Linked DNA regions of Homo sapiens. The protein of the gene in region 1 purifies or fractionates together with the protein of each later gene. This does not show direct contact. Each region holds a gene or a part of one and is shown on either strand. Other genes may lie near its edges. The genes, in order: TMEM154, ARHGEF6 and LMBR1.

Region 1 (3,653 bases):
CAGCTGAAGCCCTGTTTCATTTGGCAGGAGAACCAACACATCCAGAGAAATGAGGCAATGATGTTGAGTGGATAGCATAGGCCTGCTGCACCATTCATCATGTGAAACCTATTGAAAAGCAAACCACTTTGTAGGGGCCCACCAAATAGTCAGAGGTTTCTGATCCTTGGCACTTAAAGGCCTCCTATTGTCTGTCCTGGAGAAATGGAGGTCCTCAGTGAAGGAACACAACCAGCAGACACCTGGAACTGAGTTCCTGGCAGCAGTGAGCTGCTGTAATTTCCTGTGGGTTGGCAAGCTTGAATGGCATTGCTAATCCAGGAAAGCTGGGCACAGATGTAAGTTTCATGCCATCACCGCTTGCCTTCCAGGAGCTGCAGGCTATGTCCTCCTGCCCTCCAGTAGGCATCTAAAGCTTCCTGCAGATGCCTGACTCCTCAGAAACTTAGATGGGGGAAAGGAGAATACACACACACACACACACACACACACACACACACACACACACACAGACACCACAAACCCACACTTTCTATCTAAAATATAAAGGCTATTTCCTTAAGGAATTTTAATATAAATAAAGCTCCTACACAATTGAACATCCCTGCAGGTGACCCGTAAAGCTCCTCCTGTTTTGTCACTCCCTCCTCCTCCCTCTCCCTTTTCCCCTGCTGAATAAACCCCTGACTATTTTCCCAGACAGCAAGTGGCTGCATGGCCCCACCGTTGTGGGCATGGATATATCTTTATAATCCGGGTTCCCCACAGGCTTCAGGGTGAGCAAAAGCTAGCCTGCAAGCAGATGAAGGAAAACTTTTAAAAGCCATCACAAAAGTGCTCCAGATGCACCAAATGTGAAGCTCCTGTAATCAGTTTGAAAACAGAGCAAAAAGCTTTCTACGGCCTCATCTTCCCTGCTCCATGGCTATTACCTCTGCTCCAGCCACCATGGCAACAGAAAAACATCTGGGAGGGCACACAAAGAGCAGAGCATTAAACCAGGAGGAAGACCAATTACTTGTCCTCAGCAATCAGGCCCTGCCCGCTCCACTCCACCTGGCCTATATATATTTATGAATAGCCACCTATTCCCTTTGCAACCAGGAGGCAAATGCAGCTCTTACAAAGCTCCATCTCAAACCCCTATTCCATTTTCCCTCCAACAATCCTTCCATTTCATCTCCTCCAACCCACTTTGTCCTCCTCCTTCAGTTCCTACTTCCCCCCCACTTAGCCTGACAGTACTCTCCTCTCAGATCCTCTCCTCTGTGCATTCGATAGTGGGGTTGTCTGGTGGAGGCTAGGGGAGGGCAGGAGCTACAGGAGCCTCTGGCTTCCTTTTCTTGTTTCCACGCTGAGCAGTGAGCAAGAGAAAGAGTCTCTTTCCAGAAGATTTACTGAGTAAGCCAGGCATCATGTAGCCACAGCCTGTTTAAAGGGGTAGTTTATCGCCCGCTGTTTTCCCTGCAGCTCTTTCAGAGAGACCTCACACATCAAGACACTGCAAATTTCATACCAGGAGGTCTAGGAAGAATGAGAGCAGAACATCACGTTACTACATCATGTTTCCCTTTCCCTGAACATGAAATGGACAAGCCCAAAGGAAAAAGTAATTTCCAATCAGATGAAGTGTTCTAAAAGTTTTGGCCAAGTCCTCTCCCATTGTCAAATTTAAAGACTTATTTCCTAGTATAGTATAACAGACCAGGCTCTACCCAAGTGCAGTAAGAAACAGTATGTCTGCTTCTAACTTCCCAGGGGACATAGTGTGCAGGTGTCCATGCTCTCCTATAAAGCATTTCTGTGGGAGCTTTCCAAGCAAAACGCTGGTATGACCTTCCATGATAGTTGTATTTTACCTGAAAAAAAATCAAATTTTGCTCATGTAAATATTCTGCTTTTATTAACTTTTAGCATTCAGTTTTTCTGAAAAGTTGTCCATCTGTTAAGCAGTTAGTGATCACGTCTGTGTTAAAGCATTGGCTGATAAGAGAAAAAAATTCAAATAAAACTCTCCATCAAAAACTTTTGTGATAAGCCAATTGTTTTGAAATGCTAAGTTTTCTCTGTTGTTTTTTTTAAAGTTAGGCATATTTAAGGTAAAAATAATGTACCAATTTTTAGTAAGGATAATGTACAAATTTGACTTTCCCTCTGAGCGTAGATGTTCTTTAATAAACATTCTAATGTTCTTTAATTAAGTCACTTATTCAACAAACATATACAAGCAGCTAGTGTGTGTTGGGCTAGGCGTTGAGTTAGGTAAAGGGATGATAATAAGCTAGCACTTAGCACTTATGCCAGGTACTGATTTTTTCTAAGTGATTTGCCTATATAAACCATTTAATTCTCACAACTCTATGAGGTGGGTATTGAATTTGCCCATTTTACAGATGAAGAAACTTAATCAGAGAGTCACGGTGCCAGGAAGTGCAAGCCAACCAAGCAGTGTGTGTGGTTTGAGTCTGGACTCTCAACCTCAATGCCACACTGTCACACAAGACAAATAAGACTAGCTCTTGGTTCTCCTGGACCTTAACGACCACATCACCCAGAAAGAAAAGAAGAAAAAAGAGAAGGAAGGAAGGAAGGGAAACAAGTCACCAACTTATGACAATGTGAATACTGTGAACAAAGAGTGTGAACAAAGTATTCTGAGAGCACAGAAGAGATGGTAATTAATTTTTCCTAGGGGAGGATTATTCAAGGCTTCCTAAAAACTGGGCCCTAGCAGGGGGGCGTGGTGGCTCACACCTGTAATCCCAGTGCTTTGGGAGGCTGAGGTGGGAGGATCACTTGAGCCTAGGAGTTTGAGACTTGCCTGAGCAACATAGCAAGACTCCATCTCTACAAAACGTTTTTTAAAAATGTCAAAAACTACTCAGGCATGGTGGCACAGGCCTGTGGTACCAGCTACTCTGTAGGCTGAGGTGGGAGGATCACTTGAGCCCAGGAGTTTGAGGCTGCAGTGAGCTATGATTGTGCCACCGCATTCCAGCCGGGGTAACAGAGCAAGGCCCTGTCTCTTAAACAAAACAAAAACAGACCTGGGCCCTGGAAAAAGGGATGGCAGTTTGCCAAGCAGACAGGAAGAAAATTCCAGACAGAAGAAATGGTATCAACCAGGCATGGAGGCATCCTGAAAGTCAAGTCAAGTTCTGGGAATAGCAAATACTTCAAGTGTTGTTAGAGTGGAGGATGCATGGACCATGTCTGAGGTTGAGGCTGGCTCTCGCTTGTAAATGGCTTTTGAACCTTGAGACTTTCACAATGAAATTCAATGAAAAATCAATTTCTGGATTTGGAGCCTAAGAGCCTCACCATGTGAGTGGATACCTCCAACATCCCCCCACCCCTTGAGTCCATTAGGTAAAACCAGTCATGGTTTGGGGAAGGAAATTATGACTTTTCCTGAATTTTAAAAAATTTAAAAAGCTCTGTTTGCTTTTTTTTCTTAAGCTTAGAAAGAAGCCTCCATATGACCATGTTATTAGGAAGTCCTGAAATTTCAAGCAGTGGAGAAACATGTATTTCCCACTTCTTTGGAATCTATTATATGGGCCTCTGCCATGAAAGGAAATACTCTTCGGGGCTTCTTCCCCAGCTCACATTTGCCTCATCTGCTGACTGTGAAAGATTCCTCTGGCACAGAG
Region 2 (3,653 bases), on another chromosome or scaffold:
TATTTTTTCTTGTATAAATAGGAATGTAAAATGAGTCTTTTTAAAAACCTGTATTTCTTTCTGATTATATTATATAACTTGCCTTGATGGTTTAGTATATTTATTCCTACTATAGGTGCTCTTAAAATATGTGTACAGTGAATTTATTTCTTTGAGTTTCCATGTAGCTGAAAGGGACAGCAGAGATTTTATAGAAAATATAACCCCAAAATATTATCTTACATTCATTTGGAAACAGTAACAGAACTAACCATGTGCTTATTTTTGTATTCAATTTGGAAGGCATGCTGTTAAATTACTCTAAGATAACCTCACAGTTTCTTAAGCAGTGAGATATATATATATATATATATATATATATGTATATATATATGTGTATATATATATATGTGTATATATATATACACATGTGTATATATATATGTGTGTATATATATATATATATGTGTATATATATATATATATATATATATATACACACACATACACACACATATATATAGAAAGAGTATTCATACCCCACATAGTGTTGGCAAACTGTAATTTTTTCTTGGTTTGAAATTTCAGTATGTCATCATGAAATTCAGTTGTATCTCTTTTTTCCAATCCTTTTAGGAATAAAAACTAATTTAGTATTTTTTTCACAGCAATCTTGGTCCTTAAACAAAGTACAGCAGTGCCTAGGTTTCATTATAAGTTTGATTCACTGTGGCATAAAGAATTTAATTTTCTCTTTCACTATAACTCCAGGAGAAATTTTTTGTTTTTTATTATTTTCAAGATGTTACCTTGTTGAAAATTGAGCATATGTTAGAAATACAATTATTTTGTCACTAAAGCCCTATTTATGCAAAGATAGACAAGGTAAGAGGAGCTAAAGCAGGGGCACCAACCAGTAGATCTGAATCTACCAGGTCCTCACCTGGCTCTGGTCAGTGTGATTTGGCTGCTTGCTTTCCCATATTCTTTACAGGGAGGGAGAAATAAGCTCTTTCTAGCATTATGTTTTGATGCTTTGGCAAAATGAAAAATAGGCCTTCCTCACAAAACCTTTGGGGGCTCAAGCCTAGAGATTTAGGGTAGTGGATCTTTCTGTCTATCAAGAACAGGCCTGGGTCATGGGATTCATGATGAGGAATAGGGACTCAGTGGGAACCAAAGAGTCAGAAGCCACATCTTACTTTGGTCTTATTTTAGTCTATTTCATAAGAATTCCTATTCCATTATGTTCTGCTTTGGTTCTGTAGGGGCAATGTCAAGATCTGAGGAAGAGAAAACAGCTGGAGTTACAGATACTGTCCGAACCTATTCAGGCATGGGAAGGAGAAGATATTAAAAACTTGGGAAATGTGATTTTTATGTCACAAGTAATGGTGCAGTATGGAGCATGTGAGGTAAGGTATTTCAAATCTCAACATTATTTCTTCCATCTTTCGTATTTTTCTTCCTTTTTTTTTTTTTTTTTTGACGGAGTCTTGTTCTGTCACTCAGGCTGGAGTGCAGTGGTGCCATCTTGGCTCACTGCAACCTCTGCCTCCTGGGTTCAAGCAATCCTCCTGCCTGAGCCTCTTAAGTAGTTTTTCTTCCTTGTTCTTCCATCAAAGTCAAATGCTACAACATTCAAATCAGAAGCTGAGCACCTGTTCTTTGTTGAACATTCTGCTAGGTGCTGTGGGAGATAGGAGAAAAGAACAAGCAATGATCCCTGTTTTCAAAGAACTCATTAAAAACAGACTAAAACACAAGTTGCAACTAGCTGACAAACCAAATAGTCAATGTTCGATTTTGCAATCTCAACAAGAGTCCATAGAAGTTCACAGGAGGGAGAGATCAAGAAGACCTTACGGAGACAGGACTTGAGGAGGGGGCACAAAAACAAAAGGGGAGGATTTCGCAAGGCAGAGGTCATTGTTATCTTAGGAGAGAACAGAAATGTGGCTTTGGTTTGCTGCAGCACAGTAAGGAAACCAGCCTGTAGGGAGCAAAAGAAGCAACTTGGCCCTAGTAAAAGATTGATTGAGTCAGGTAGAATTAGACTATGCAGAAGCTTGACATCAGGCAAGAGTAGTTCAGATGGATGCAACAGGCCATGGGAAATAATGAAAGAGTCCACAGTCATAGAACAACACTCCGAAAGGGATGTTTCACACTAATCTGCGACCTATATATGTCAAATGAACTGGAGGGAATGGACGAGAAGCAGAAAGGCCAGCTGGGATGGAAAGTGAGAAGGAGTCCCCTAAGACGGTGGTAACACTGGGAATGGAGCAGAAGGAGCAAATTGGAGGCATCTTTAGAAGGGAAAGCCAACAGGAAGTGGTGCCCCTGGGTTAGAGGAGATGAAGAATATAATTTTAGACCTGTAGATATCTGGGTGGAGATGTCCCATAGGCAGCTGTTAATGTAGTATGGAAATGTGAGTGAGAGGTCAGAGTTAGAGGCAGAGACTTAGATGTCCCTAACAGATGTGCCTTCCTAGGAAGTAAATATCCAGAGAGAAGCCCGGGGGGTGGGGGGAGCTGAAGATGGATTATTTCTTTTAGGAAGGAGCCAGGGAAAGGGAGAAAGGTTGATTATGGCACCTGGTTTGATGTATCGGGTGTTAGAATTGTCTTCCTTCTCCCAAAACATCTTCCTACGCTCTCTGACACGTCTTTGGCGGAGATTCATTACTTTGGGTTAATAAGCAATCTCATTTAAAATGCAAATACCCCAGGGAAGGTTACTGCAGTGAGTCTAACTATTAGTCATTCACACCTTTGGGATAAACCCCTTGGGTGAAGGCAGGAGGAATCAGTGCCAGAAAAAATAAAAAGACAAAGAGGAAGGTAGAGAAGAACTGGGGGAGCATGGTGTCATGGAAATTCCACGAGGAGCATTTGAAAATGGCCAGTGTGCTGACTGCTGCTGAAGGTTCAGAGGGCAAGGAATGTGAAGACCAAGAGGAAGCCATTGGATTTTGCTAGAAGGCAGTTACTGATGACTTTCCAAGAGCAATGGGGGTGCAGTTAGGGATGGATCAATGCAGAGAAAATGAAGGCAGCAAGTAATTTGCCAATAAAATGTCAAGAAATGGGATATTATGCATAAAGGGCCACATGGGGGCAAGCCAAGGTCTGTTAGGATAGGAGGTGTACATATGTTAAAGAAAAAGAGGAACAGCTAGTAAAAGAGAAGAGGATGCTGGGAGAAGAAGAGGTGTCTGTAGAGGAAAACTAAGTGAAACAAAGATGTGAGAGAATGTGGAGCACTTGTTAGAATAGTTAGCCTGGAAGGGTTGCTCTTCTCAAATGGAAGGAAGGAGATGGAGACAGGCATAAGGATAATTGTAGCTAAGATGGCTGGGCATGGAAGGCAAACGTAATTTTTGCGTATACTAATTGCATATCTGTTGAAGGGGCTCACAGCAGCCCTCACGTTTCAAGGTTTCCTCAGTGCCATTAAAAAGTGTATGGGAGGCTGAGGTGGGTGGATCACCTGAAGTCGGGAGTTTGAGACCACCCTGACCAACATGGAGAAACCCCATCTCTACTAAAAATACAAAATTAGCCGGGAGTGGTGGCACATGTGTGTAATCCCAGCTACTTGGGAGGCTGAGGCAGGAGAATCGCTTGAACCCGGGAGGTGGAGGTTGTGGTGAGCCGAGATCGTGC
Region 3 (3,653 bases), on another chromosome or scaffold:
TTTTGTGTCTGGTGCAAGGTAGGAGTCATATTTTTTTCTCCCACAGGAATGTCCAATTGCTTCAGCACTATTTAGGACTTTTGTCACAGATAGGTAACTGTATATTCATAGGGTTTAATTTTGGACTTTATGTGGTTTTATTGGTCTATTTGTCTTTAGTTTTATTATTTTTTAAAATTTGAGACAGGTTCTCCCTCTGTTGACCAGGCTGTCGTGCAGTGGCGCAATCATGGCTCACTGCAGCCTTGACTTCCAAGGCTCAGGCGATCCTCCCACCTCAGCTTCCCAAGTAGCTGGGACTACAGGCTTGAATCATACAGGTGTGCACTAACAGACCCAGCTAATCTTTTAATTTTTTGTAGAGGTGAGGTCTCACCGTGTTGCCCAGACCTGTCTCCTGGGCTCAAGTGATCCTCCTGCTCTTTGGCTTTACTTTTAATTAATTAGATATTCTAGAATTTGGGTTGAGAAAGGGACACATTGTAAAACAGTCCAGAGCTTCGTCTACTCCCCTGAAAACGGTTTTGGTACCGATTATGGAGTTCTTTAGTTCTGACTCTCCTCACCTGTTTCCCTCAACCCAGTACCCCTGGCTGGTTGAGTCTACTCCATCTTCTACAGAACCAGCGCAGACAGTGACCAGGCTCAGGGTTCCCAGTCTTTGGCATTTCTTTCTCAAATGATTTATATTTAGAGTGAATGTAAATACTTTTTCTCTAAGACCTGTTGCCAATTTTTAAAATTATTCAATTCTTTCTGATTTTGCTACATAATGCTATAATTGCTTAACTTTTTTATCATAATAAGATATATATATATAACATGCAATTTACCATATCTAAATATACAGTTCAGTGGCGTTAAATACATTCACATTGTTGTGCAACCACCACCACTATCCATTTCCAGATCTTTTTCATCAACTGAAACTTGATACCCATGAAACAGTAACTCTCCATTCTTCACTCTCTCCAGCTGCTGGTTCTGCCTATATGAATCTGACTATTCCCAGTTGAACCATACAATATTTGTCCTTTTCTATCTGGCTTATTTCACTTAGCATAATGCCTTCAAAGTTCACCTGTGTTGTAGCATGTGTCAAAATTTCTTTTTCTTTCTTTTTTTTTTTTGAGACAGAGTCTTTCTCTGTTGCCCAGGCTAGAGTGCAGTGGCGTGATCTCGGCTCATTGCAACCTCTCCCTCCCTGGTTCAAGCAATTCTCCTGCCTCAGCCTCCCGAGTAGCTGGGATTACAGGCATGCGCCACCGCACTTGGCTAATTTTTGTATTTTTAGTAGAGATGGGTTTCACCATGTTGGCCAGGCTGGTCTTGAACTCCTGACCCCAGGTGATCCACCTGCCTCAGCCTCCCAAAGTGCTGGGATTACAGGTGTGAGCCACTGTGCCTGGCCTCATTTTTTAATTTTTTGTAGAGATGGGGTTTTTGCTATGTTGCCCAGGCTGTTCTTGAACTCCTGGCCTCAAGTGATGCACCCACCCTGGCCTCCCAAAGTGCTGGGATTACAGGCGGGAGCCAACGTGCCTGGCCCAGAATTTGTTCAGGCTGAATAATATTTTCTTTTTGTGTATACTGTATTTTGCTTACCCATTCATTCATCAATTGACCTGAGTTGTTTCTGTTTTTGGCTATTGTGAATAATGCTGCTGTGATCATGGGTATGCAAATATCTATTAGAGTCCCTGCTTTCAATTCAGAAGTAGAATTGCTGGATCATATGATAATTCTATGTTTAATTTTTTTTTTTTTTTTTTTTGAGACAGAGTCTCGCTGTGTTTCCCAGGCTGGAGTGCAGTGACTCAATCTCGGCTCACTGCAAGCTCCGCCCCCCCGGTTCATGCCATTCTCCTGCCTCAGCCTCCCGAGTAGCTGGGACTACAGGCACCCGCCACCACGCCCAGCTAACTTTTTGTATTTTTAGTAGAGACGGGGTTTCACCATGTTAGCCAGGAAGGTCTTGATCTCCTGACCTCGTGATTCGCCCGCCTCAGCCTCCCAAAGTGCTGGGATTACAGGCGTGAGCCACCACGCCCGGCCTCTATGTTTAATTTTTTTGAGGAACTGCCATACCATTTTCCACAGAGGCTGTACCATTTTATATTCCCACTAGCAAGGAGCCAGAGTTTCTGGTTCTTCCGCATCTTCACCAACACACATTGTTTTCTGTTTTTCTTCTTTTTTTTAAAATGGATGTGAAATGGTATCTGATGCTGGATTTGATTTGCATTTCCCTAATTATAAGTGAAGTTCAGCATTGTTTCATGTGCTTATTGACTATATGGACATCTTCTTTGGAGAAATATCTGTTCTTTGCCTGTTTTTGAATTGAGTTGCTTGATTTTTGTTGTTTAGTTTTAGGAGTTCTTTATATATTCTGAATATTAACCCCTTATCAGACATGTGATTTGCAAACACTTCTCGCCCATTCTGTAGGGTTGCCTTTTTACTCTATTGCTAGTGTCCTTTGATGCACAAAAGTTTTTAATTTTGTAGTCCAATTGATCTATTTTTTCATTTGTTGCCTGTGTTTTTTTGTGTCATATCCAAGAATTCATCACCAACTGGCATCATCACCAACTGGCATCATGAAGGTTTTCCTCTAAGAGTTGTATAGTTTTAGCTCTTAGGTTTAGGTCTGATCCATTTTGAATTAATTTTTTTGTACAATATAGTGTTTAACTTTTTTTTTTTTTTTTTTTTTTGAGATGGAGTCTCACTCTGTCGCCAGGTTGGAGTGCAGTGGCACAATCTCAAGGCTCACTGCAACCTCCGCCTCCCGGGTTCAGGCAATTCTCCTGCCTCAGCCTCCCGAGTAGCTGGGACTACAGGCGAGCGTCACCACACCCAGCTAATTTCTGTACTTTTAGTAGAGACGGGGTTTCACCATGTTGGCCAGAATGGTCTCAATCTCTTGACCTCGTGATCTGCCGCCTCGGCCTCCCAAAGTGCTGGGATTACAGGCGTGAGCCACCGCGCCCAGCCTAGTGTTTAACTTTTAAATACTCATGTAATAATTTTGTCTTTTGTATTATGAATATCTCATAGTTCTCTTGTCAGTTGCTTTAGTGATCATATTTGACTTTGGCTATTAGTATCAGGTAGTAATGATTGATTTCCTTTCTTTTGAGAGCTAGCTATGAAATCCTAAGGCTGCCAGCTAACTGAGTATACCCTCTCTTGGCTAAGGGGACCCCAGGAAACCTTAAAAACTGAATTCCCAACCAGAATGGGATGGGACATCTGACACGCCTCAGTATACCCCCTCCCTTTTGAGGTTTAAACACAGCTGACCAGCATTAATGTTAAAATAGAGATCTGAAGACTGAGAGAACAGACTCTTTGTGGCAATAAAATACCCAACTGTGAACAAAATGTAGGGCCATGCCAGGCAAGGGTTAAGTAAAGCATCCCCTTAAAGAATAAACTGGTTCTAACTGCCTCAAGGTGTTTCTTTTTTTCTAGCGGCTAAACAAGCACTGGCCTCCAGATAAGCAATATTAAGATAACTGCAGCTCACTCACTGCCAGACCCTAAGTGATCCCCACTCTCCTGTTCCACAAGCCATAACTATAGCTTTGATTGGACAAGAGACTGATTTCAGTAACTTTCTCCTGATAAGAGCACTGAGCATGAAC

What was found.
Region 2: the proteins of TMEM154 (region 1) and ARHGEF6 purify together in Homo sapiens (co-immunoprecipitation; 2 studies listed by BioGRID and IntAct, with this or other methods). This does not show direct contact.
Region 3: the proteins of TMEM154 (region 1) and LMBR1 purify together in Homo sapiens (affinity purification with mass spectrometry; one large-scale study listed by BioGRID and IntAct). This does not show direct contact.

The regions. Positions count from the first base shown.
Region 1 is NC_000004.12:152,645,469-152,649,121, forward strand, and holds part of TMEM154 (transmembrane protein 154 precursor), read right to left. Parts: intron 1,860-3,653; exon of another isoform or gene 1,716-1,859; intron 1,525-1,715; coding exon of another isoform or gene 1,511-1,524; exon of another isoform or gene 1-1,510.
Region 2 is NC_000023.11:136,683,418-136,687,070, reverse strand, and holds part of ARHGEF6 (rho guanine nucleotide exchange factor 6), read left to right. Parts: intron 1-1,247; coding exon 1,248-1,394; intron 1,395-3,653. UniProt on the Homo sapiens protein: Acts as a RAC1 guanine nucleotide exchange factor (GEF).
Region 3 is NC_000007.14:156,886,531-156,890,183, reverse strand, and holds part of LMBR1 (limb region 1 protein homolog), read left to right. Parts: intron 1-3,653. UniProt on the Homo sapiens protein: Putative membrane receptor.